Linked DNA regions of Homo sapiens: regions 1 and 2 are each linked to region 3. The links come from fine-mapping of genetic effects on gene expression. A gene starts in region 3. Each other region holds a variant in brackets. All regions are shown on one strand. Distances are from middle to middle. Region 1 has its middle 6.1 kb from the start of OR6K6. Region 2 overlaps SPTA1 (spectrin alpha, erythrocytic 1). Region 3 holds the start of SPTA1 (spectrin alpha, erythrocytic 1).

Region 1 (11,401 bases), 63 kb before region 3:
ACTGTGAGGAAGGTAGATAGGAGAGGCAGGCTTTGGAAGGAAACAAGCAACAGTGCGCCACAGAAAGGCAGAGCTTCCAAGGGGAAAAGTGTAAGATATTGGAGTTTTCTTCTGACTAAAATATCCACTTCTCTGTCCTTCCTGTGTTTTTCTTTTCTAAGCAATTGAATAATCGTGCTGAGTAGTCATTATAGAGAATATGGAAGGACAGAGAAGGAAACACAGGGCTATAACAAAATACAAGAAAATAGGTGCTAAGTGGCTAATAAAAGCCAGACAGAGTGACTACTTTGTTGCTGTACGCACGGGGCCCTTCTCAGTAGTAAAGCTGCATCATTATTCATCATCGGTACATTTATTCAACTAACACTCATATATCGATTGATCTTCTGCTATGTGTCGATGATGCCATAGGTTCAAGGGCTATATAAAGGTAAATAAATATTATTCTTGTTCCTGAAATACATAAAGAACCATCAATAAAATCCTACTGTTAAAGATATTTAGTAGTGTCCAAGGAGTTCAATCTAAAAATATTTCTTGTATGACGTAAAGACACTTGAATTAGATTAGACTTGACTTTGAAGAAAAGCAGTAACTTTCTCTGTGACTCTTCAAGAATCCACAATTATTAGGGTTTCAACAAGATTTAATGTTTAAAAGACCTTAGACATTATCAGTATCTTCAAACTGTTAGCTGAACCATATTCTTTCTGTTATCCCTTCCCGATTTCATTTACCCTTAGTATAATATTTCACTCATGTAACAAAGTTCTTAAAATATGACAGTTTGCCGTGAAACAGCAGGGCAACAGTTGGGTTCTGAAGAGTTGAGGATGTAAGGAAGCTATTGGGCGGCAAAGTAGAAGTAAAAGGAGGTTGGATGATGCCCTTTCAATGCAGTCTTTAGTACTTACCCTGCCTGACACCATGAGAATGCTCCTCAAAATCTCTGCAGCCACCTCTTCTCCTAGCCTGTCAATAAGGGTACAAATGTCTCTGAAGCCTCTTCCAGGAATAACTAGAATGGAAAGATGGTCTTTCCTGGGAGTTTCTCTTTGGATGATGCAATGTCTAAAGGAAAATTATGTATCTTTCTCTCCCCTCTAAGGGACAAATTAGAAGAACAATGCTACATAGTAATTAGACATTCCCCAGGGTCAGGTTTCAAAAGTTGTCCTGGGGCTATAAAACCTTATCTCTCATAGAGGAATAGAGTATAAAGCTGGGCACTGGGGCACAGCTGTGGCAGTCAGAATAAACTTCATCCAGGATCATGATTCTCTGGAATACTCAATCAGTAAACACTCTTTCCTCTCCACTTTTATTCATTTTCACTATGATTTCTATTCCCTCTGTTGATATAATCAACATCATCATATTTTTAGAAGTTTTTAAATGCAAGTCTTATTTGATCCTTTAAGAAACTTATTTGTATGCTGAAAAAAATAGTTAACATGGTTAAGATTTATGTGATTTGTTTTTCATCATATTAAAAAAACCTCTTTGTATAAGGTAAGCAAGACTACAGTGATTCGCATTTTGCAGATGTGGAGGCTCAGAGAAGCCAAAAGCTTTCTCCAGTACACACAGGCAATACAAGGCATGGAAGAAACTGAACCTTAATCCTCTGAATTCAAATCTAGTTAAACACTAGCATTACCTTTCAATTATATCTCTACTGATTAGTCTCAAGTATATATTCCCTGACTTAGGAATATATTGCCAGTATTGACGGTAGCAGTGTGGCCAGGGCAGGAACCAGGGACAAGGGGGAGCCCTGCGCCTTCCGAGTTGGGGTGGGAGCACCCCAGGGTGTCGCTGCAAGCCACTGTTGCAGACCCAGGCATCCTTGTGCTCTTGGGGCCAAGGAGAAGGTGAGAGCCCCATCCTCCAGGCGCAGCTGCAGCCACCCAAACCCAGGCTGTAGATCTGGGCCACCTGCTCCATGGAACTGGCAGAAGCCCCACCCAGGAGGTTCGGGCTACAGCCACCCAAGTCATGACTGTGGATCATGGCCTCCCACTCCTCCATGCAAGTGTAGCCACCCAAACCACGGCTGCGGACCCAGGCACCTCTGC[G/A]CTCCTGGGGTCCTGGGAAGGTCCCCCTTCTCTTGCAGGTTTGAAAGTGCCTGCTCCTGCTGCCTGGCTTCTCCCTGCTGTCAATGTCCACTCCAATCTAGGAGCAAAGTAAGGGCTGAGACCCAGTCCTATTGTAGTCTGTCCAGGTATGCACATGCTACAAGCAGTGCTGATACACCAGCCCCTTGATGCCTTCTCCCTCTCCAGACTTTGGGCACCAAGAAGCATAGGAGGGAAGCCCAGGGGGCACAGAGGGCATCTCAGAGCTGGCATGCAGGCCCCCCTTCACACCTACAGCCTGGGGGCCATGAATGGCAACAGAAGCAGACAGATTCCTGGGCAGAAGGGGGCAGGTCCCTGGTAAGGTCCCACATTCAAGCCAGGGAGGGCCTGAAAACTGGGGGCTGGGGTACCAGTCCCTCAGACCAGAGCGGGAACTTACAGTGCCCAGCTAATTTTTGGATTTTTAGTAGAGACGGGGTTTTATCACATTGTCCAGGCCGGTCTTGAACTCCTAACCTCAGGTGATCTGCCTGCCTCGGCCTCCCAAAGTGCTGGGATTACAGACGTGAGCCACCATCCCCGGCCAGGGAGTCTCTTTTTTGTGCTTGTAAAGCATCTAGTGCCTACACCTGTTGTTAAAATTATCTAGTTATAAGTCTAGATTCTAAGAAATTTGATGATTATCTATCAATATTAATTTATATTTTAACCTTTAATGCATAGCCCTAAGACTTACCTAAACTCAGGTAGTGTATGTTTAATAGAAGACGATCAACTAGGATTTTGAGGTGATAATACAAGATCCATGTTTATAGATTATTTAGCACATACGCCTGGCTTCAATCATATGGCATGTGGAATGTAATAGGGAAGAGACAGAACTGGAAGGTAGGGTTTGGCAGAGTGTGGAGGTCTTTGAATGTCAGACATTGGGATTTTGAAAGCATATTTTTCACATAACGGAAAGTTATGAGATAATTTTTGAGTTGGAATTAATGCACAAAATTGCGTTGATGATATGTAGAATGCATTTAAGTAGAGAAATTATGGAAGTAGGAAGTATTATTTATTCAACTCACATTTACTGAGTACCTATCAGACATCAGAGCCTATTCTGCAATAATCTGGAGTAAAGGCCTAAAATAGAACTGTAATAATGGAATTAAAGGACAGAAGAGATGGGAGTAATTGTGAATAAAGAATCAATAGGACCCGACACCTGATTATATTTGTGCTATGATGGTAAAAGGAACATTAAAGGTAACAGATTCATAAGGTTGAGTTCGTCTGTTAGATGGCACTATCGACAGATATAGGACCAGCTAAAGCAAAAGCTTGTAGGGGCAATTATAAGAAGATGAGTTATAGATATTTTATCTTGAAAATGTGAGAGAACTTTTAAGTAGAAATGTCTATTTGCCATTAATGATGAAGAATTGGATTTCAGAAGAGATGACAAGTCTCTTCTTGGACACATCTGTGGACACAGATGTCTGTTATTTAAGTAGAGATTATAATTGAACTATGAGAATGCACTAGATAATTGAAAAAGAATTTAGGGAATATGAGAAGAGACTGGAGGATTACAATAGGTAGGTGAGAGAAAAATGGTATTAATAGTAAATAACTTTCATTTATTAAATATGTGACAAAATCTGCTAGGGCATTTTTATATTTCATCTCATTTTATCCTTTCATAGTTCTGTAAATTAGTCATTATTATTTCCACTTAACAGATGAGAAAACTAAAGTTTAATGACCATGTATTTTCTCTGTAGTCAGGTAGCTAAGCAGGTGGCAGAGTAAGAATTTGAACCTAGGTCTATCTTATTGTCTTATCCTGAAGAGTTCAGGAAACGAAGAGAGAATCAAGGCAATGATGTATTGCAGAAATCAAATGAGAGAATTACAGGAACAAAGAAACAATCACTGGGTGAAATAGGGAATTCGACTAGCTTTTTCTTTTTTTTTTATATACTTTAAGTTTTAGGGTACATGTGCACAACGTCATCATTTTTTATGGCTGCATAGTATTCCATGGTGTATATGTGCCACATTTTCTTAATCCAGTCTATCATTGTTGGACATTTGGCTTGGTTGCAAGTCTTTGCTATTGTGAATAGTGCTGCAGTAAACATACGTGTGCATGTGTCTTTACAGCAGCATGATTTTTCTATTATTATTTGTAACACTCAGCAAATAAAATTTAAATATATTATATAATATATCTTAATCTCCATTAAAAATTATATACATAGGTATGTATATATACCTATATAAAGAGATATATATTTAAAAATGGGTGTCCATCATAAAAAGTAAAACTTTGAAAATAAGAAAAAGAAACACACAGCATTAAGACCATAAAGAAGAAAGAATGAAATTAGTTAAAGATGATATAAAATTTCCAAATGAAAATAAAGACAAATTATAACACAAAGTTCAGCAAGTGCATAGATACAAATGGATATATTTAACATTGCATTATTATATGTAACAGTTGACAAAAAGTGTAATAAAAAGATGCCATTTGAAGTATCAACAAAAATAAAAAACTGTAAAAGATATGTTACATCTAAACATAGCACTTTATAAAACTGTATTGGACTATATCAAAAACATAAATAAATTGATCCATATGCTGTATGAATGAATAGAATGTCTCAGTTACATAAACATGCCAATCATCTACAAGTCAATCATTTCAACCCAATTTCAATCAAAATCTCATTTTGAGTAGAGAGGAGTGGGATATGTAAGAATGAGGGCCAAGAAGAAGACATTTCAAAGGAGGAGATTAAAATGGTGCCACTTGTCTATTTAGTAAAAGTTATTATGAAGCAATATTTGTAATAAAATAGCAGTGGGAGTAAACAGCCAATGGAAGCAAAGAAATAGACTAATATAGTATGGGATTTTAACATACGTGAGAGTAGGTATAGCAGACCACTGGGGAAAAGATGAACATAGCCAGCACAACAGGTCTGTGGAAAAAGGTGCATTGTTTAATCAATTGTATTGGAACTTTAGTTAAAATTTTTCAATTCCATATAAATATAAACCATAAATTTAAAGACTGATGAATAAAACTATTTAATAGTTCGTTTCATCAAATAGCATCATTAAAAAGAAAAACAACAAGATATACACTAGGAGTCTGTATTTGTAATAACGTTTATAACTGATTATTTTTATTTAGAATATACAAAAAGCTTCTACAAAGTAATAAGAAAAAGATAAACAACCAAATGAGGAGTACACACACACACACACACACACTCACACATACACACATACAACATTCAACTGCAAATCAAAGCAATAGCATATTGTTTACACAACAACTGAGTAGCAAAAATATGACCACCCAGAACATTAGAAAAGATGTGCAACAATAAAAATGCATTTATTGTTGGTGGTAGACAGATTCTGAAAAACAATTTGGCAGCATCTAGTGAAGTTGAAGATGCAAATATTCCAGAATACAAAACGTTGAAGGCTAATGAATGATTAAATTGTGCTCCATTTATACAAGACAGCAGGGATTTTCTTTTAAAGTTGCAGCTAGATACATTGATGTGAATGATTCTCAAAACATATGTTGAGTGAATAAGCAAATTATAAAGTAATGCCTAAAATACCATTCTATTTACATAGAGTAAAACAGAACTAAACAGTATATTGTTTTTGAGTGTGCACACATGTGCTAAATAGAATAATAAACACAAAATTCAGGTGAATGGTAATATGTAATATGGCAATAAAGAACTGGATTGGGGAGGAAAGTGTAGTGGTCTTCAAAGTTATTCATAATATTCTATCTCTTAAGTGGGGTTGTAGGTTCATGTGAACAAGAAGTGAAAAGGTGGAGACAGAAATACTGATAAAAGAGTAAACTATGCTTTTAGGAAAATAAGATCGGGAAGAAGAAAGGCAGTATGGCAGACTTAGAGCAACAATGAAAATGAGAAAGAGTATATACTTTAATATGTTTGAGCATATTCATAAGCTATATAAGCAGACTAAAAAGAGGAAAATTTGGAGGATACATAGGTAAGTGAGACAACTGAAGGAACAGTGTCTCTGCATGAGATGAGATAAATAGGTTCAAAGCGTAAGAGGAGGAATTTATCTTAAGTGGTAAGACTGGATAAAATCAGGGTCAAAAAGTAAACATCAGTGTGGCTACAAATTAGACTATCTTTGAGTCACTATCTGATTCTTTAGCTATTCGCCGATTCATTTAATTATTCGTTTATTTAGCTACATATTCCTTAATCGAATGCTTATTGAGGGACTGTCTTTATTTATTGTTATTGTTTTTTATTTTTATTTTTTAGAGACAGAATCTCACTCTATTGCTCCGGTTGAAGTGCAGTGGCTGCTTACAGGGGCGATCACGGTGCACTGCAGCCTCGAAGTCATGGCCTCAATCAGTCCCCCTGCCTCCACTCAAGGATCTGCCTTAAAAATCGCCTATTAAAAATCTAATCATTCAGAGTCGAAAGTCACCTCTGCTCTGACTCATTTTTCGCACCATATATGCCTGTGTCTCATAAGTTTTTTTTTTCTAATTTCAAATATGCTTTCAAATTCTGTTGCATTTCTATATCCACTGCTACTGTTCCACTAAACATTTAACACTTCGTGATTGTTTTATATCTCTTTTTGTGATAGAAGAAAAAAATCTTATGTGTTGTATATGTCTATTTCTTCTGCCTTTACCCACCTGGAGGTTAATATTAAGTCCAATTTCAGTTTTTAAAAAGTAGGAAAAAAAGAATTAGAAAAGTATCCTTCTGCTTCTATTTCCTGTCCTCTATATGAGGGCCCTTTTTTTTTTTTTCCTCAGGTCTGTCCAAGGTCTAGCTCATGTGTGCTCATCAATACAGCTTTCATGTAGCAGGAAAGGTTGCCCTTCAATCCTTTCCTGACTCCATACACTTGGGATATCTGCTGCTGGAACCCCTGAAACCCATGAAATCTCATGAGAGCCCCCTCATTACTGCCACTACTGCAAATGGCCCTGTGATCCCTGGATCCTTCTGAAGAAATTCTACTAAGCTGTGCTGGATGGCAGCTGGCTGAATCTTCTGCAATACACTTCAGGGTTGTGCTGTGTGATCACTAAACTGCTCCAAAGAGTAGAGAAAATTCTCCTGCCTTTGAACCACATTGCGTTAGTTTCATTCCTTTTGTTCCTTATCCTTTCCCTTTCTCAGCAGATTTTGTAATTTAAACTATTCTTTTACCCCTTGGACAGAATGGAAAGCCAAGTACTCTTTTCATCTGATTTCTAGCCTGACTGAAAAACCTAGCTTCCCATAGGTGTGTTGACCTCATGAAAGGGGAGTGTGTCAGCAAGTGTTTTCCTAATTAGTCTCATGGGGCATAGAGTTGCTTTTCCCTAAGCCCCCCAGGAAAGAGCCCTTTAGAAGAAAGCCTTTCTCCCACTTAGCAATTCCCTGTGATGCTTAGAGGTGTGGCTGTGGTTACAACCTTCCTACTTATTGGGCTGCAGAGCAATGAAGATGGAGACATTTGGAAAAGAGGAGGTGGCTCTGTTGGTTTCTGGAAGAGGTAGCTATGGACTGATGGGTGGACTTTCTACTTTGAGATATGAGTGAATGACTTTGTTTACTAGATATTGGGGGACAATTTTCACAGAACCATATTATTTCCTATTGGACTTTAAAGAAGGACTTGTGGAAATTTTGTTGAGATTGTGACAACACATGAGGTAGAGGAAAGGACCATAACTTAGGGATGGAGGGCTTTGGTGAGTGTTTGTCCTACAATTAGAGATTGCCGTAAGATAACAAACACCTGGACTAAATCTGTCAAATTGTGTCTGGCCCACTAGCTCTATGACTCTTTCACAACTCTACTATTTTCTGAGCTAAATTCTAATCTAGGTTTGTATTGTATTTAGTGGCATCAGGACAGGCTCTTAAGAATAAAGGAATGTCAGGACAACTAGTGGAGCTTCTGGTTGAGATTCTGGGGTATCCATTCCTACAGAAAATAGGAGAGTCCTATTAGGTATAACTTTGCTCCCAAGACTCTATATCAAATTGCCTTCCTATAGGCATCCTCTTTCCTTCTTAAAGACTCAAGTTCCTAAAGACCTACCTTTTTAACAAAAATTTCCAGATTTCAATTTTCTAATTCCAAACGGTACTGGACATAGAGCTTAATGCTTCTTTCCCTGTTTGTCTCCCTACTGCCTCTGTAAGCAGAACACAGAACAATTACACGGGTATCATTTTCTATCATACTAGGAAAGCCTGTTGGGGATAATACAGTCATAAGATATTGGGATGACAAAATAATTTTACAATCTCATATACAGCCATATTATCTGTTCTGCTTAAAGGCTCAGGTTTGATTTGGAACCCTACAGAGAGCCAGTATAAGGTTTTCAGACAGAGGATTGACAGCTTTGCATTTAGGAAAGATTATTTCAGTAGCTATGTGAAAGTGAGATGTAGTAAGACAAGTCTGGAAACAATAAGCCCAGATAAGAGTAATTAAGGTAAAAATTGCTAGAGTATAAATTATTTTTTATGAGCCTCCATTTCTTATGTAAAAGTTTTCTTAAAGAAAAACAAGGGAATTTTCACCTCATATTTTCCTGTTTCAACATAGACTTACTATTTTGCTGTATGTATAAAAAGCAAGAGAAAAAAAATTGTGGTTGCCATATGCCAAGCTGGGTTCTTACTTGTGTATAGCCTCCGGCATTACGGTTTCCAAATAATTTTATCTATTTATTGTATCCATTGGCAGTTCAGAGTTGTCTGACTTTTTTGGTAGATATCAGTAGCTTTCTCCATTTAGAGGTCCCATCTTCACCTCAGTACCAAGTGAAGAGTCAGAATTCTGCCATGCAAACAAACGTTTATTAGCAAACAGGCAAAAACATACTACTATTAGGCCTTTTCTTGGAAGCTCATGGAAGTCTCAACTCTTTTTCCTTATGCTTTCTGGTTAGTATAATAAATGAAGGTTTCTATCAAAGATAAAATGTAATAAAATTCTCTGCAGTAGAAAAGCTAACTTTCTAGTGAGATTAGGTGATAAATACCCTTTTAAGGAGGGAACACAGGAATGAATGGATCATGTGCCTATTGCACCTCTCCAAGCTCTATAGGCTGCCTAGCTCATCCTGTTTTATATCCCTGCAAGCCAGAGGTTAGGAATACTTTCAGCCAATCAACGTATCTTGATCACCTGGTTTTTCATTAAAAAAAATTTCTGTATGCCAGTGGTTCTTAACTGGCACAAATTTTCTTCTACTTCTTCCCTGCAGGGACATTTGGTGATTTCTAGGATGATTTTGGTAGTCATGACGAGGGAGGGGTCTATGCTACTGACACCTTATAGGTGAGACCAGGGGTGGCTGCTAGACATTCTATAATGCACGAACAGCCTTGCCTTCTCTCTGAGCAATGAATTGTCTGTTTCAAAATGTCAATAATGCTGAAATTGACAAAACCTGCTTTACATTATTTAATAAACTCTACAGTGTGGATACAGATAAGAATATTTGAAGCCCTTGTCAAAACTGCCTCTTGAGGTAGACTATTGATTAAAGTATTTCAAATGTTGCAAATTACACCTAGAATGTAATTTCTAGATTAGCTCACTTCAACTATTAACTAACTCCCTGTGATAGTTAATACTGAGTGTCAACTTGATTGGATTGAAGGATGCAAAGTATTGATCCTGGGTGTGTCTGTGAGGATGTTGCCAAAGGAGATTAACTTTTGAGTCAGCGTGCTGGGAAAGGCAGACTCACCCTTAATCTGGGTGGGCACCATCTAATCAGCTGCCAACGTGGCTAGAATATAAAGTAGGCAGAAAAACATGAGAAGACTAGACTAACCTGGGCTCCTAGCCTACATCTTTCTCCTTTGCTGGACCCTTCCTGCCCTCAAACATCAGACTCCAAGTTCTTCAGTTTTGGGACTCGAACTGGCTTTGCTTGCTCCTCAGCTTGCAGACAGCCTATTGTGGGACCTTGTAATAGTGTGAGTTAATATTTAATAAGCTTCCCTTTAACTATATATATATCTCCTATTAGTTCCGTCCCTCTAGAGAACCCTAATACACCCCCTTTAGAGTGTAGATTAGATTAATTTGTATACCCATATATGTCACATGAGATTAGCCTCTTGTGTCTTAAAGTAAATAATATTTGGTGGAATGTTTGGATTTTTTCTTTTCATTCAATTGTTAATAATGAGTCAGACTAAGGGAAGCTGCTAATCATACTTTAGTTTCAAACATGCGCACTTAAAAATGAGTTTATTCTTATCCACAGAGGGTATCATTTTGTCATGACCCATTCTTCTGTGTCCCCAACACTTCATCTCAAAAAAATGAAAATGTCTACTTACTTAAATTGTTCCTAATTTACTGTTATAATAAATGTTCTAGCTAATATTGTCATATATTTCTTTTTTAATATCTGAAATATTTCCCCTAGACTACATAGTGAAAGGCTTAAACTCTAAACAGTCTTAAACTCTCAATATAAATTGCCAAATTGCCATTCAGGGGAGTTTGTACCAATTTATATGTCTAACTAGCAATACTGTTAGCTTATCCAACAGAATAATTGACAACATAAGTTATTATAATTACTAAATTTGACAGGATAACTTTATATGTTGCAAAATGACTCACATAGTATATTTTATTTAACCAGCCTAATTTCAAGGCTGTTTAGTTGCTTGAAAAGAAGGTTTTTATTTGTTCTTTGCATGTACTTAGAATGTTGACTGTGTTTTATGAGCCAACAAGTGAAACCGCTGAAAATATGGATCCAGAGAATCAGACAATGGTGACTGAGTTTTATTTCTCTGATTTTCCTCAATCTAAGAATGGCAGCCTCTTATTCTTCATTCCTATGCTCTTTATTTATATATTCATTCTTGTTGGAAATTTCATGATTTTCTTTGCTGTCCAACCGGACCCCCATCTCCATAATCCTATGTACAGTTTTATCAGTGTCTTCTCCTTCCTGGAGATTTGGTACACCACCGTGACTATCCCCAAGATGCTCTCCAACCTTCTCAGTGAACAGAAAACCATCTCTTTCATAGGTTGCCTCCTGCAGATGTACTTCTTCCACTCACTCGGGGTCACAGAAGCCCTAGTCCTCACAGTGATGGCCATTGACAGGTGTGTAGCCATCTGCAACCCCCTTCGCTATGCAATCACTATGTCCCCTTGACTGTGCATCCAGCTCTCCACTGGCTCTTGCATTTTTGGCTTCCTCATGTTACTGCCAGAGATTGTGTGCATTTCCA
Region 2 (5,267 bases), 36 kb after region 3:
TATCCAATTGTCAGTTACCATGTAAAAATGTCACTTTTATGAAATGGGAAAGGAATGTTGCCAGTCATACTATTGGGTCACTGGCATTTTTACTATTTTTAAATGCAATCCTATGTGTTTATCTTTTTGCCCCCAAGGCTGTTTTCCTTCTAAGTTTATTTCCTCCTCTCTTCTACTATTCTTTTGCTTTTGATTTGTTTTCCCTTTCATTTTTGTTCCTTCTTTCTCTATGTTTGTCACTCAGCCTCTACTCTTCTGTATTTTCTCCTTCTTTTATTCCACTTTTCCCAATTCTCCATCCAGATACCGCTCCCTCTTGGATCGGGCAGAAGAACGCAGACGTCGTCTATTGCAACGTTATAATGAATTTTTATTGGCCTATGAGGCAGGAGACATGCTGGAATGGATTCAAGAGAAAAAGGCAGAAAACACTGGAGTGGAACTAGATGATGTTTGGGAGCTGCAGAAAAAGTTTGATGAGTTCCAAAAGGTGAGAAAGAGGAACCTTCTCTTGAAGGTTGCCATTGTTTGCTTTTATCCCTCAGCATATTCTACATGATCTTTTAATTTATTTCACACTTGTTAAATATTCTCCCCAAAGCTATTGGCAACTCTGTGGCTGAGATCTCCCTCTAGGTATTGTAGTTGCTAATAATTGGAAGGGAAATGCAGAGAAAACTAGTTACCCTAACTGCAGCCTTCAGTGCCTGCCACTCCAAAATCCTCCCTGGAGTGCTGGTCTTCCTGAATTCTTCACAACTTGCCCTATACTATACTTTGTTTCCAGTGCCCAGGTTGGGATAAGGTATTGTTGTACCATGTGTAAAGTTTAATTATGGGGCAGAGTTTGGGGTGGAAGAAGGAAGAACCTGACTTGACAAACAATTTCTAATTTTTTGCCTACCTAAAACCCTTTCAATATTCTTTCTTCCCTTAGATTTTTTTCCATTATCTTAACTAGCAGTGAGTGTACATTCCTTCTTTTCTTTTTCTTTTGATATCTTCCACGTGGGATTTAACACACACACACGCGCACACACACACACAGAGAGAGAGAGAGAGAGAGAGAGAGAGAGCACTCCCTAGAGCTGTTTCTTACAATATCTCATAATATAGGCAGATAATAACTCAGTTAAAGAAATCTTTAAAGCTGGAGTTTGTACTGGTAGAAAAGGATGTTACACAGCTCAGGTATCAATCCCTCTAATGGTATAATTTAATCCAGGGGAGATTTTAAGAAATCTAGAAAAATGGCTGTGCTTCATACTACAGATAAATAATAGTTATCTTGACAAGTTTTGGACAGCCACTAGGTGTCAAGATCTTTAAGGATACTCTTCTCAGTGGTGGATTGGAGGAGAGGAGCTTGGTGTGTATTACGGTGATGTAGGGGCAGAGATGGACAGGTAAGTATGGTAGATTCTTGATGAGGGGATTTACACTGCTTTGGATGAATTTACACTGCTTTGGATGAATTTTCCCATTCAGGATTTGAATACCAATGAGCCTCGGCTAAGGGATATCAACAAGGTAGCTGATGATCTACTATTTGAAGGACTTCTAACACCAGAAGGAGCTCAAATCCGGCAGGTAACTAAGGCTCCCTCCATTCCTCCTCACTACCAGGTTGGGCTTTGGGAGTCCTCATTTCACTTCAACATGGAACTTTATATTCTGCAGACCCACTAGAACATGCAGAAGGTAACAGCAGTATGGAATTAGCTACAGGAAAGGCCAAAGACAATAGCCCAAATAGTCCCTGTATTTTTGTTGTCTAAATTAACTTAATTAAAGCAGGCTCATTTGTTAACATATATTGAGTGTCCTCCATGCCCTCACATATGTCATTTCATGGATGGGGTGGGAAAGGAGACAAAAGTATTGGTAGCAGAAATTAAGATGTAGCTTTAAAAGGCAGGATTAGGAGGTTTAGATAATATTACACTGGACATTAGGTAAATTAGATTTACATCATAGCTGTATTCTTGTCTGACTGTGTGTCCTCAGACAAGTCTCTTCATTTCTAAAAACCTCAGTTTCTATATCTGAAAGCAAATATTGGATAGCACAATATCCAAATTACAATATCCAAACCTCCTCTTAATCTTCTGTACCAGGCTACACCAAATTAAACGTAAAGTTTTTTCCTTACATGTCCACCCAATAATATAATTGAATTTGAACTGCAATTTTGGAATATATACATTTGAACTGATCTAAAATTCTTAAATTACAACACATACTCACCTCTCTTTCACTGTCACACACA[G/C]AAGAAATTCTCAATTACATGAATTCAAAGACAATGCAGATAAAGAAGCTATGATAGTGGGAAGAGGTTGATCAAGAAAGTTTACTGGAAGACACAGATTCTGATCAACGTGCTGAAGAAGGAGAATATAGGTCAGTAGAGACAGAGGAGAGGCCATTCTTGACCTGATTCAGATCTGGATCTATGATTCCATAAAAGATCTAATGAACATTAATAAATGTTCAGTCTAGTTCTCTGGAATGCCATAGTCAGTGAGGATGAGTTTTCTGCCTGTTTTTATAGTGGTTGTTATGGGATAAGAAGGTGAAGAAATACGAAGCGGAACAATGTACTTACCCCCTATAGAAAGTAGGGCTTTAAAAGTCTACCTGGTTTATTCAATTCAGAATACAGAATTGTTTGTCTTAGAGAAATGTGATCACTTCTAACTACCAAGGCAACACTTCCCATTCATTTTTTGGAGTTTACAGTGCAGTCTTTGTAATAGCAAGCACTTATTTACTGCTCCGGAGTTGATGGTTTCACCCTTTAACATCAGTTTGGGAAGAAATCACTTTCTCTGCTGCACTGGCAAAAATGAGGCCCAAGCTCAAGCTGTCCAAGAAAGAAGCAAAGCTATGCAATTTCTGAAGAAAATAACGTAAAAACAACTATGTTTTAAATCTTGTCTGGTCTTCAGACGCCACTGAGCCATGTGAGTTAGTTCTCTGTCTCAAGTCTGATGTTTTTGCCTCTTTTAGGAATTGAATTCCCGCTGGGGTTCTTTGCAGAGGCTTGCAGATGAACAGCGGCAGCTGCTGGGCAGTGCCCATGCTGTTGAAGTGTTTCACAGGTAATAATTATAACTCTAAAAAGCAGTGCTGCTTTAAAACCCACTCACTAAACTTCTAAGTCTATTACTATGGTGGAACCATAGTATAATCTTTTTTCGTGAGATGGAGACAATGTGCCAATAGAAAATTAGGTTTTTTAGTAGTATGATTCTCACTTCACAAACAGGATACTCCCAGACAACTAGCTTCAATTTTCTAAAGCCTAGGCTTGGGCCTTGGAACATAATTAGTAGTCTATATATGTTTCCATGAAAATGAATAACACTTAGGCTGAGGGCAGTGGCTCACAGCTGTAATCCCAGCACTTTGGGTGGCCGAGGCAGGAGGATTGCTTTAGGCCGAGAGTTGTAGACCAACCTGGGCAACAAAGCAAGACATTGTCTCCACAAAAAAATAAAAAATGAAAAATTAGCCCAGTGTGGTGGCACAGGCCTATGGTCCCAACTACTTGGGAGGTTGAGCTGGGAGGATCACTTGAGCCAGGAGGCTGAGGCTACAGTGAGCCTTGATCAAGCCATTGCACTCCAGCCTATTGCAACAGAGTGAGACCCTTATCTTCAAAATCAAAACAGAAAGAAAGAAACTTGAAGTTGAAACAGGAGGTTTAAGTAATTACATTTCTCAACTAGAAGCTGACAGTAGAGGGCAACAGACATCACATTGACTATCAGCTCATTCAACATTTTTCTTGTTTGATTTTCAAACTAAGAAACACAAAGACACATACAAAAAAGTAAACAAACAAAACAGAAACTAAACACCTTCATTGTGTATAAATGTATTTTTGATGATGCAGGGAAGGAAAAACAGACTCAGACAGGTCTGTGTGTGTAGAATGCTTAAGATAGAAAGCTATGGAAATATGATGGTTAAGCATGTGACTGCTGTCAGATGGCCTGGTTCAAGCTTAGGCTCCACCATTCAGCAGTGGTATAATCTTGAGAAAATACTTACCCTCTTTAGTCCTCAGTTTTCTGATCTATTTAATGGGAATAGTAATAGTAACTATGCTTCTTGGAGTTGTGAAGATTAAATGAGCCTAAGTTTCTAGCACATAAAAAACAATGATGATAATTGGTTGGGGTGGGGGGGTGGGTGGGAGGATGGTGAGTGGTAGTGATGATAACTTTCTTGTGACCCCCACTAGCCTGCCTCTGGTACATATCCTTACTTTTGAACTCTCTACTCTCTTGTATACCAGAGAAGCAGATGACACGAAGGAGCAGATTGAGAAGAAATGCCAGGCCCTCAGTGCTGCAGACCCTGGCTCAGATCTGTTCAGTGTTCAGGCTCTTCAGCGACGGCATGAGGGCTTTGAAAGGGACCTCGTACCCCTGGGAGATAAGGTGAGACAAGTCCTTCAAAGCTTTTCCAACACTTTCCAGTCTATATTTAGCCGTATACCAATGCCCTCTTCTTTGGTTCTCTTTTTCAGTCTTTTATTCTTATATTTCTCTCTGTTCTGTGCCATATTTATTCTTGTACACTGTCCCTAAGGCAAGACCATGAAAAGGATATGCCCCATGACCATTAACATGGGGAAAAAACTTGTTAAACTCCTGCTGTCTGAGTGAGCACCCTATATCCCCTTGCCTCTTTGGTGGGTTACAAGTGACCAGATCTTGTGGCAGCTAGGTGGAGGCCAGTAGCCCAGAAGAAATAGCAAATGTCCATACCCAGGATGATCAGGCCAATATCTGAGTATGGTGCATGTTTTTCTTAGCAAGGAATTGAATGAGTTGTTTAACTCTGTTTCAACCCAAAAGTGTACTCTGGAGCTTGTCAGATATACTCAGAGGCTTGGCATTATCATGCAGAGCAAAAAGAAGCTCCTCACATGAAGAATCAAGACCCTTGGGTTTCCTAATTGAGGTTGCCACTAACCAGCAGAGTCACTTAACCACTCTTCCCCACAACTCTCTTATTTTTAAAAAGAAGTATGGTAATGCCAATTGTAACTACCTTAGGGAGTTATGTGGACTAAAAGGTTGATATTATTTTGTAAAGTATGATGACATACTTGTACATCACTGATATCTATTTGAGGAGCTGAATACTGGGACTCAGGATTCTCCTTTTGCTAAGATTCAGGTGTGTCTCTAGGCTGATTATCAGAGCTATTGTACCTCCCCAGGTGACCATACTGGGGGAGACAGCAGAGCGGC
Region 3 (11,589 bases):
AGGAATACATGTGCCACGGTGGTTTGCTGCACCTATCAACCCATCATCTAGGTTTTAAGCCCCGCGTGCATTAGGTATTTGTCCTAATGCACTCCCTCCCCTTGCCCCTCACCCCATGACAGGCCCCAGTGTGTGATGTTTCCCTTCCTGTGTCCATGTATTCTCTTTGTTCAACTCCTACTTGTGAGTGAGAACATGCAGTGTTTGGTTTTCTGTTTCTTTTGGTTTGCTAAGGATGATGATTCCCAGCTTCATCCACATCCCTGCAAAGGACATGAACTCATTCTTTTTTATGGCTGTATAGTATTCCATGGTATATATGTGCCACGTTTTCTTTATCCAGTCTATCATTGATGGGCATTTGGGGCATGCAGTTTTATAGATTGTACTTCCTTTTATACTTCCATGGTATTTTCCATCCATTTTTTTTTTTCCTGAGTCCTTTTAAATAAGGGTCTCTATATGATCAGAGCCAATGAATATTCTTGGGAGATTGTAGAAGTAGAAGAAGAAAGTCAGAGGTCCAAGCGTTAAACCACCAAGGTATAAGACTTTTCCATCATGCCCTTTCTTCTATCTCAGCGACATGCCTTGTTATGTGCACTAATAATCATAAACAATGCTTAGAGACTGGAGAATCAATGTTAGTTTCAAGGGACTTTGAGTGCAGGATGGGACTGAATTTTAAGTCACTAAATGCCAGAGCAGCAGCCAGAGTACTGTCAGAGCAAACTTTACATGAATCTCTGCTGCCTACAATGATGGAAAACTCAAGGAACTCAACAGTTTTTATGTGTCAAAACCTTCCCCTGAATGTCTCCTGTGTACTTCCATATTGCAGTTTTGCTCTAAAGACTATGATTCTGGCCAGGTGCGGTGGCTCAATCCTGTAATCCCAGCACTTTGGGAGGCAGAGGCAGGTGGATCACCTGAGGTCAGGAGTTCGAAACCAGCCTGGCCAACATGATGAAACCCTGTCTCTACTAAAAATACAAAATTAGCCGGGTATGGTGGTGCATGCCTGTAATCCCAGCTACTAGGGGGGCTGAGTCAGGAGGATCACTTGCACCTGAGAGGCAGAGATTGCAGTGAAGTGGGATCGTGCCACTGCACTCCAGCCTGGGCAACAGAGTGAGACTCCAACTCAAAAAACAAAACAAAACAAAACAAAACAAAACAAAACAAAAACCAACCAACCAAACAAACAAACACTATGATTCTTATACACTTTTTTTTCTAATGTGGTGAGAAACAACATGAGATCTATCCTCTTAACACATTTTGAAGTGTACAATACTGTATTGTTAACACTTATACAATGTGTTGTACAGCACAGCTCTAGAATTCAATCATCTTTCATGGATAAAACTTCATACCTACTTAATACCTATTTTTCCTTCCCTCAGCCTCTGACAAGCACTATTTACTCTGTTTCTATGAGTTGGACTATTTTATATACTTCCTATAAGTGGTATCATGCAGTATTTGTCCTTCTGTGACTGGCTTATTTCACTTAGCATAATTTCATCAAGGTTCACTCATGTTGTCATATGTGACAGGATTCCATTTGTTATTATGACTGAATTATTTCAATTGTATGTACATGCCACTTTCATCAGTCATAGACATTTCAATTGTTTCCATTTCTTGACTTTTGTTAATAGTGCTGAGATAAACATAAAAGTGCAAAAGTGCAAATACCTCCTTACAATCCTGATTTTAATTCTTTTGGCTGTATACCCAGAAGTGGGACTGCTAGATTGTATGATAGGTCTATTTTTCGTTTTTAGGCAATGCTACACTGTTTTCCACAGTGGCTGCACCATTTTACATTTCTATCAACAGTGTACAATTGTTCCAACTTCTTCATATTTTCAGCAATACTTATTTTTCTATTCCTTTGAGAGTAGCCATCCTAACAGATGTGAGATAATATCTCAGTATCGCTTTGATTTGCATTTTCCTGATAGTGATGTTGAGCACGTTTTCTTATACCTGTTAGCCAATTGTATGTCTTCTTTGGAAAATCATCTGTTCAAGTCCTTTGCTCATTTTCTAATTTTCGTTTTTGTTATAGATTTGAAGAAGCTCCTTGTATATTTTGGATTTTAACCTCTTGTTAGATGTATGCAAATATTTTCTTCCATTCCATAAGAGAACTTTTTTTATTGCTTATTGTTTTCTTTGCTGTGCAGAAGATGTTTAGTTTGATGTAGTCCAATTTGTTTATTTTTGCTTTTGTTGCATTTGTTTCTGGTACCGTATCCAAGAAGTACTTGGCAAGACCAAACAGATCACTTTGCTCTGATGCCTGAGCAGCAGCTGAGGCAAGCTGTTCAGTGCTGATTAAACTACTATGTAAAGTACAAACCCTCCCTGAGGTGATAACCATGGCCAGATACAACAGCCCTCCAAATTATCCCCATCCTTTTAAAACTGTATAAAATACTAAATATATAATTCTTATTATATATGATAAAAGTCATAAAGCTTTTTCCTTGTGTTTTTTTTTTTCCAGGAGTTTTACAGTTTCAGGTTGTAATTTAAGTCTTTAATCCCATTTGAGTTGATTTTTGTACATAACATAAGGGTCCAATTTCATTTTTTTATGTGAATATGCAATTTTTCCAACACATATGTTGAAAAGACACTTTTATTTCCTTATGATCAGTTCTGCTGATTGGGCCATGCTATTTCTTTTTTTTTAAAATAAACATTATAGAATTAGTAAGCATTTTTACTTTCTTTTTATTGTGATGATTTTACTTTAGTTCTAGGACACATATGAAGAACATGCAGGTTTGTTACATAGGTATACACATGCCATGGTGGTTTGCTGCACCCATCAACCCGTCATCTACATTAGGTATTTCTCCTAATGCTATCCCTCCCCTATCCCACCACCCCCGCAACAGGCTTCAGGGTGTGATGTTTCCCTCCCTGTGTCCATGTGTTCTCATTGTTCAACTCCCACTTATGAGTGAAAACATGTGGTGTTTGGTTTTCTGTCCTTGTGATAGTTTGTGGAGAATGATGGTTTTCAGCTTCATCCATATCCCTGCAAAGGACATGAACTCATCCTTTTTTATGGCTGCATAGTATTCCATAGTGTATAGGTACCACATTTTCTTTATCCAGTCTTTCACTGATAGGCATTCAGGTTGGTTCCAAAGGGCTAATATCCAGAATCTACAAGGAACTTAAACAAATTTACAGGAAAAAAACAAATGACCCCATCAAAAAGTGAGCAAAGGATATGAATAGACACTTCTCAAAAGAAGATATTTATGCAGTCAGCAAACATATGAAAAAAAGCTCATCATAACTGGTCATTAGAGAAATGCAAATCAAAACCACAATGAGATACCATCTCATGCCAGTTAGAATGGCGATCATTAAAAAGTCAGGAAACAGCAGATGCTGGAGACAATGTGGAGAAATAGGAATGCTTTTACACAGTTGGTGGGAGTGTAAGTTAGTTCAACCATTGTGGAAGACAGTGTGGCAATTCCTCAAGGATCTAGAACCATAAATACCATTTGACCCAGCAATCCCATTACTGGCTATATACCCAAAGGATTATAAATCATTCTACTATAAAAACACATGCACACATATGTATATTGTGGCACTATTCACAATGGGCCATACTATTTCTTTGGTCACAAGGTTATCACATGTTTGGCATTCTTGCTAAGATGATTCTGGAACAGGGAAACAGAACAAATAATGTTGATGGACTAAGAGAAGATTGACTAAAAAAATAAGGAGCAGAGTGCCATGATAATCATATTGATATGGATTTGACTATTTAAATACTTTCAAACCAAATCACCATAGAATGAAACTTTGTTTTTTAGGGACTGTTTTCTCACATAAAGACGGGTATGATAATACCTGCCTCACAGAATTTTTAAAGATTAGAAATTAATGTAAATTGATCATGTTAATATATAAATATTTCATAGATGTTGATTCTTTTCTCTTAAAGATAAAATAATTTCCTCTCCTTATCCCAACTTCAGACAAATATTCCTCAGTGCATGTGTTATAGTGCAGTCTCTAAAATTATGTTCCTGCCTTTACTACTAAATTTGACTTGAATATAATGAAACTATATGGAAAAGTAAAGTAATCCAGACTTTCAAGAAGAGAATGTAAAGGACTCTCAGTTTTTCTATGTGAGATCCAAGAACAGGGGAAACCACAAATGTAGAATCAAAATCTTCTCTTGTAGATCATGGAAGTTAGATTATTCAAGCTGCATTTACACTGGAATGAAGTTTGGCATGGATAGCCCCACTGGCTTGTAGAAAGGTCTAAGAGCATCCCACTATTTTCTTTTTGCTTGTTTGTTTCATTTTTGTAAGTTAGTCTAAAATAACTATGCCTATGGAAAAAGTCTACCTCTTTTTGTTCTCCATTAAAATTAATACATACAGTAGGATGATTTATACCATATATATCAGAAGTCAGCCATATTTTCAACTTTTTTGTGACATCATTGGTTTGTCAAATAAGGTATCCTAATTTTTGTTTTACAAAATATTAATGAACACATCATATAACTTTTTTTGTTCCTTCCATTTAAATGATTAAGAGTACAACTAAATCAGATTTTTAAAGACCAAATTGTTGAGGTTAGGAATAAAATCTTATTTTGTGAAAGACTCTCTAGAAAAAGCCAGGATAATTCGTTGACTTAAAGACTGTGAAAAATCTGCAGTTGAGTTGGATGAAGTTGTTGAGCTGTATTTCCTATAAATATATGGGGTTTTTTTTCTAATTTTTCATCCAAAAACCTTACTTTCATTTTTTAAGTCTTATTGAGTAACTTTGAAAGCCAGAGCCTCCCAAAACTGCTGAGTCACCCAGTATCTGTAAAACTTAGCAGTTGCCTCAGCTGAGTATGTCTTCTAAAGATAATGTCGATTGTGTATGGCTGATGGGATTCTAGGACCAAGCAAGAGGTTTTTTTTTTTCCCCCACATACTTAACGTTTCTATATTTCTATTTGAATTCGACTGGACAGTTCCATTTGAATTATTTCTCTCTCTCTCTCTCTCTGACACATTTTATCTTGCCAGGTTCTAAACCTTTAGGAAAAATGGAGCAATTTCCAAAGGAAACCGTAAGTACATATTTCTCTTCCATGCAATTTGTCATTAATATTATTAGGAAAGATGTTTCCTTTAAACTTTCTATACTATCTTTCCCAGGAACATTAATAATTATTTGGCTTTTAACAAATAGATAATTTTACTTTTAACTATTTTTTGTGAACAATAACCTTGAGCTTATGTCTGTGCAGCACCAAGACCCAGTAATGACTTAAGTCGGTTCCCAGAGAGAATAAGTAGGGAGATTGAAGCTAAATAACACCTAGTAACAACGTGAGTCTCCATGTAATGATCTAATTCTATAGCCATGCCAGTAATGGCAATTCACAGAGTAGCAATTATACTTAGGAGGAATAATGGGAGATTAAAATTTAAACTCTATATTAAACATTTTGGCTGAGGTAAGCTAGGGAAAATGGTATCCATATCCAGAAGAATGAAGGTGAACCCTATGGTGATTTTGCTGGATATTGTCACAAACAGGTTGGCTCCCACTCTGGGAAAAGGATACTTATATATTGTTTTAGAGTAAAAGTTTTTATATTTCAAAAATAAATTGCAGACATGCTAATAATTTGAAATTTGTGACAATTGGGCAGAAGATAGCTGAACTTTTGATTTATAGTGTTTGTGAGTAAAGCAAGTAAAGAGTAAATATATGAGATTTATTTTTAAGTATGAAGGAAACAAAATTTTCAAACTGTTGCATATATCATTAACTAAATTAATTGCAAGCCATTCTTAATTATTTATTAAATTAAGTTAAAAATAATAAGCACTTCTCAACACCTTTTTAGCCCTTGAAAGCAATAACATTATATTTCTTTTTATCTATCTGAAATTATGTGATTTTGCTGATTTAAACTTGCTCCATGATCAGTCCAATATAATTATATCTATAGAACTTAAATGCTAGCACAAATTTATGTAAAAAGTGAGGAGAGTCTTCTGGATAATCAAGAATTTTTAACCTAAACAGAAGCTATGTCTGGTTAAAAATTACGTAAATATACTACAGCTCTTCTGACAATAGTCCCTAGAAACTTCAGGATATCTGAATATAGGTCCAACATGAGTAAACACCTTGACACATATAAGCGGGGCAACATGTTAAATATTTGAGAACTAGCAAGTAACAGAATCTTTTTAACTTGCAGGTTGTGGAGAGCAGTGGGCCAAAGGTTTTGGAAACAGCAGAAGAGATCCAGGAGAGGCGTCAGGAAGTGTTGACTCGGTATCAAAGTTTCAAGGAGCGGGTCGCTGAGAGGGGTCAGAAGCTTGAGGATTCCTATCACTTACAAGTTTTCAAGCGAGATGCAGATGATCTGGGGAAGTGGATCATGGAGAAAGTCAATATCTTAACCGATAAGAGCTATGAAGACCCAACTAATATACAGGTCACTCAGTTCTCTTGATTGCCTCAGAGCAGACCCTAAGATCTCTAGAGAAGGAAATAGGTTTTTCTTTATGTTAATGTTAATGGGTATGTGTGGGTACAATTAGATTCCGTTTAGAAACAAAAATAAGTCAGTGGAGTGGGAAGTTAAAGAAATAAATTAATAGAAAATCTAAAAGTGCATTTTCCCTTATGAAGTTGGAGAGGTGAGACTGAGAAAATAAGAATCAAACAAAAAGCAGCAGTTTTTCAGTTGTTGAAAGCACAGAACTGTTTTTTACAATGAACTTCCATTCAGAATATACATTTTTTAATCATTAACCAAGGATATTGCTTATTGATAAGGGCATAGGATACTTTACATATTTTCATGGTGAAGCATTCATCAATGCCAAAAGTAAAAAATTACATCAATTTTTTTTCAGATCCAGCACAAATATTATGGTAATGTAAGTGTATATCTGGTTAATTGTAGTGGGAGTGATGTAATGGAAAAATTAGACTGTCTGTTAGAAACAGTAATTCTGCCTCTAAATAGTCCATGTCTTCATCTTCATAAACATCGGGGTGTTATTTGCAAAGGAGATTTATTCTGTATAGAATTTGATGGTTACAATACTCATCTGAAATTGACCTACAGGCAAAACAGCAACTGCAAATTCAAGAAATTTCTGACAAACCATGTGATTTTTGATATTTTGGGACATTAAGAAGGGAAATAGGGTGAAGAGTCATCAATGCTTCTGAAGCAACTGTCCTCCACTCTTCTCAGAAATATAAGAGTTAACCAGGTTAACTAAAATCCAATTTAGTTAACCTGGTTAACTCAATTGCTATTCATGGCTCTTAAGTTTTTCCTAAAATGTTGTTCATGGGTCTCAAGTTCTAATGAGAGGTTTCAGTAGAAGTTTGGTGAAAGCTCCTACGCGTTTCTGATCACCTAAAATTATAGCATGTGATACCTGTTCTCTACTCTTCTCAGAGAGATGAGTTAACCAGAGTTTTTTTTTTTTCTTCCCTAAATTGCTATTCATGGCTCTTAACTTCAAAAGAGAGGTTTCAGTAGAAGAAATTTGGTGAAAGTGCCTACCCCTTTCTATTCACCTAAAATTATAGCATGTGGTGTTGTCATAATCAGAAGCAATTGATGTTGGACAGGAAACACCTAGAACAAGAGCAAAATAATGTGCTATATTGAATGGATCAATTTATAGATTACAAGAACAGGCACAGCATGCAAAAAAAACTCTCAATTTTTTTTTTTAAAAACCATTATTATAACTATCATCTTTCTCATTGTGCTCTACTTCCAAAAAAAAATCAGTTATTCCTCTTTTCTGATGAGGAAGGACACTGTGTGTTACACTCTTTTATTCCTATGGCAGTCTATTGAGCCTTTAAAATAAGGCTCGGCATAGATCATAAGGCTCAGCATAGCTCAGGACAGTATTTACTGAAAACTTCCTAAAGCCAGTGGGGACAGGAAAATACTCTTTATGGCCTCTGAGTCTGGGACCCTTTGAGAACCTGTGTTTGGTGGCTTTACATAGAGTGAACATTTCCCATGAAGACTGTGCTTCATTAGACAAAAACTCTGATTTCTAAACTTTAGGGGAAATATCAGAAGCATCAATCCCTTGAAGCAGAGGTGCAAACAAAATCAAGACTCATGTCTGAACTGGAAAAAACAAGGGAAGAACGATTTACCATGGGTCATTCTGCCCACGAAGAAACGAAGGTATATGTATGGGCCCTTGAAGAAGTTTCCAATTATTGATTATGTTATCAGGGTTTTAACTGATTATATGAGATATAAACCTTGAGTGGCTGGCTTATACCCAGGACTCCTGCCTCTTATCTTCCCCTGGGGTTGAGGCATAAAAAATGATGGGATATCTTCGTGTTTCTTGGGGTGAAGAGAGCTGTGATATTAAAGCTGTCATTAAATGGCATAAAATTCCTCCTATAACAGTGCAGGATAATTTGGCTCAAGATCAAGCCCACTTAAACCTGTTCCACATTATCCAGATCAATTAGTTTTTTCCAATGTTCTTTCTAATTATTTCCTCTAACCTCAATGTCCTTGTCTCTTAACTTCTCCAAATAAGGAATGCTCTCTCATTTGAATGTTTTCCAAAATATTTTTCCTTTGTCTATGATGCCTCTTTCTTTTCATACACCATACCCTATGACTACTATTGCACCTCTCCAAACTGTCCCTTCTTATTACTTCTAAAAACTCCCAAATGTCATGTAGTCAGAAAATTTTCTCTGAACATCTAGAAATGAAGATCATCACTATTTCAATAAGGATTCATACTCTGTAATCTATTATTAATGTAACAGCTATTTTTGGACTTAATCTACGAACTCTTCCAAATGTTTGTGCTAATATTGTCAATTCAATTTTTTTGTGTGTGAGTGAACTTTTTACTGTTTATGTATTTTTTTAATTGTCAAAACAAATTTGCATTATATATCTTAAAACTGGGTCTGGCCTTTCTATATATAGCATAAAAATTCTAGCCCATTCTGTCATCAAAATATGGTCAACGGACACAGATTTTAGCCAGAATAGAATCTTATTTTAAAGAAGAACCCATAAAAGGAAAATTTCAAAACTTGTTTATTTGTATAAAGTATAATTAACTTTTGTATTATGCACAGTTTTGCATGTAACCAGCATCTACATTAATTACAATATTTGAGAAATGTTTGAAACATCTTCATTTCTGTCAGAATCACTGGGGCTATAGCAAATGGTACCATTGCGGGGTTTAACGACATATGTGGTCCACATGCTACCCAGAGCAATGGAGTAGTTGAAAAATATAAGATTCTTGAAGATATGACATAGGTGGCAATTTCAGTTATATAAGACAGGTAATACATAATGTTCTGAGTTAATCTGGCATTCAAAGCCCTCTGTAGATTCTCAAACTGTATAGTCCCAAAACACTGTTATTGTTTCGGTGCCAATGATTTCCTTATAACTTATAAAAATTATAGCTCTCACACTTTCTGGCAGACAATTCATGCTAAGTTTCTCCTATGCCTTTGCTATTGCTGTTTGCTCTTCTTAGAACATGTTATGCTTATGATTGACCTGTCAAAAATCTTTCTGCTCCATAAGGCTCAGTTCAAATGAACACTTTTCCATGCTTTCTTCCTCCTTCCCATCTTATTGTTTGTAATTATTCCATCCTTTAAAACTGCAAAGCATTTTTACAAATTGTTCTCTTATGTAAGATCGCATTTGGCTTGGCTTGTTAGCTATTTCCATATATCTATCCTATTTCCTCTTTTAAATGTTTGTTGAGCAACTAATGCATGAGTAACTGAGAGAAGAATTTTTATCCAGGTCTCTTTCTGCACAAGTCTCTGAGTGTTTCCCTGCTCCCAGTGTCTGTGGCTGAGTGGTTTTGCCCCTCTTTCCTAAAGGCCCATATAGAGGAGCTACGCCACCTGTGGGACCTGCTGTTAGAGCTGACCCTGGAGAAGGGTGACCAGTTGCTGCGGGCCCTGAAGTTCCAGCAGTATGTACAGGAGTGTGCTGACATCTTAGAGTGGATTGGAGACAAGGTATCGAACTTAAAACAGCAATCACACAGGGCCTCCCACTCCTCTGTCCCAGGTACCCCATAGCAAATTACTGCAGACTACTCACAAGGAAGTCAGGATGTCTGTTCCTGGCTTTGTTCTTTGGAACAAGAGGAAATTGGGGCCAAAATGTAGGGGTATCTGGAGGTCAACATTGTATGGAAGTAAGTCTTAACATATGGATCTGAATATGAAAAAGGCAAGACTTACACAAAGACCATGCATTGAAAGATAATTAGGCTCATCTCTCTTCCACTTCCATGATTTTTAACTCCTTCTCCTATGTTTTTGCTCTTACTCTGGGGTCTGGCTGAGAGTATTGACAGCTCTTTCTCTAATCCTTTGTGTCTCAGTGCCTATAAAGATGGAGGGTTTTATTTTTCTAAATACTAAAGGAATAATTTAATAGTTAGGACTAAAGATTTAGATAAGCAAATGCCTAACAAAATACTTTCGTAGATACTGATATGTTGAATTGAGTAGAAACAGGATGAATTTATCCCTCATGTTTCAAAACACAAAAGGGTACTTTCAGGGTCTCTTGCCAGTAATGCCACAAACTTGCTAAAGAACTGCCCGAAAGAGCACTTTCCCTTGTGCCAAGGTGCTACCTTAACAAATATACTTCTGCTGCTGGCCTTTTCCAGGAGAGCTTCTCCCAGTCTCCCCCAGTATCTCCATTTGAGTTATCCTGGGAATGCAAGCAGGAGTTTTGAGTTTTTGACCTACAGAAACTCCTAAATGTTTGCTGGCAACTCAATCAACTTCTGTGTCTACAGGAGGCTATAGCGACATCAGTGGAGCTAGGTGAAGACTGGGAGCGCACCGAAGTTCTGCATAAGAAATTTGAAGACTTCCAAGTGGAGCTGGTAGCTAAAGAAGGGAGAGTTGTTGAAGTGAACCAATATGCCAATGAGTGTGCCGAGGTGAGGTGGGAGCAAAATATTCACTCCGTGCAAAGGGTTCTTATCCTTAAGAATAACTTCTGGCCATTAGTAGATGGATATGAAGGAGATGGGGCATTGTGAGAAAACAGAGGTTGGCATGTTCCTGGAGTAACATATTCTGAACAGTTTCCTCTCCCCTCTGGACCCACCCCTTACAAGTCTATTGAAATGGAGGGTTGAGAGAGAAAGAGAGAGTGTGTTTTTGTGTGTTTGGAGAAATTAAATACACAATGGGCAGTGAAGCTATTGCCATTTATATAGTAGCTTCTGTACCATGCAGTACACTGATTACTCATGTTAATGGGGCACTCTTTCTTCATGAAAAAACACAAAAATAAAGTAGCAGAGCATATAAAATAATGTTGAGCTATCATTATTTATACATATATATGCATATGTAATATCATTATACAAGATTATTTCGGAGGATTGAGGAAGGAAAGGAAGCGGTTTTACTTTTATTTACTTAAGAAAATACTTAAGTTTGTGATGTGTATATATATATAAGTTTACATGTATATGTAAG

What was found. PIP is the estimated chance that this variant, and not a neighbour inherited with it, causes the effect. A credible set is the group of variants that fine-mapping cannot tell apart.
Region 1: its variant is the best candidate, but not a certain one, in a credible set for the expression of SPTA1 in lung (TOPMed, PIP 0.55).
Region 2: its variant is the best candidate, but not a certain one, in a credible set for the expression of SPTA1 in whole blood (INTERVAL, PIP 0.55).

What each region holds. Positions count from the first base shown.
Region 1 is chr1:158,742,923-158,754,323 of GRCh38, reverse strand. It overlaps the pseudogene OR6K5P. Among named protein-coding and RNA genes, the nearest start is that of OR6K6, 6.1 kb to the left of the region's middle. The variant G/A (reference allele first, on the strand shown) is at 2,082.
Region 2 is chr1:158,647,690-158,652,956 of GRCh38, reverse strand. It overlaps SPTA1 (spectrin alpha, erythrocytic 1), which reads left to right. Exons shown (of 52, transcript NM_003126.4): 23 at 304-490; 24 at 1,489-1,590; 25 at 3,010-3,101; 26 at 4,304-4,448; 27 at 5,237-5,267. Among named protein-coding and RNA genes, the nearest start is that of SPTA1, 36 kb to the left of the region's middle. The variant G/C (reference allele first, on the strand shown) is at 2,270.
Region 3 is chr1:158,680,036-158,691,624 of GRCh38, reverse strand. It overlaps SPTA1 (spectrin alpha, erythrocytic 1), which reads left to right and starts at 4,910. Exons shown (of 52, transcript NM_003126.4): 1 at 4,910-5,131; 2 at 6,278-6,517; 3 at 8,129-8,254; 4 at 9,958-10,098; 5 at 10,896-11,042. The coding sequence starts at 5,108. RefSeq lists a cis regulatory region at 2,192-2,489 and a silencer at 2,849-3,063.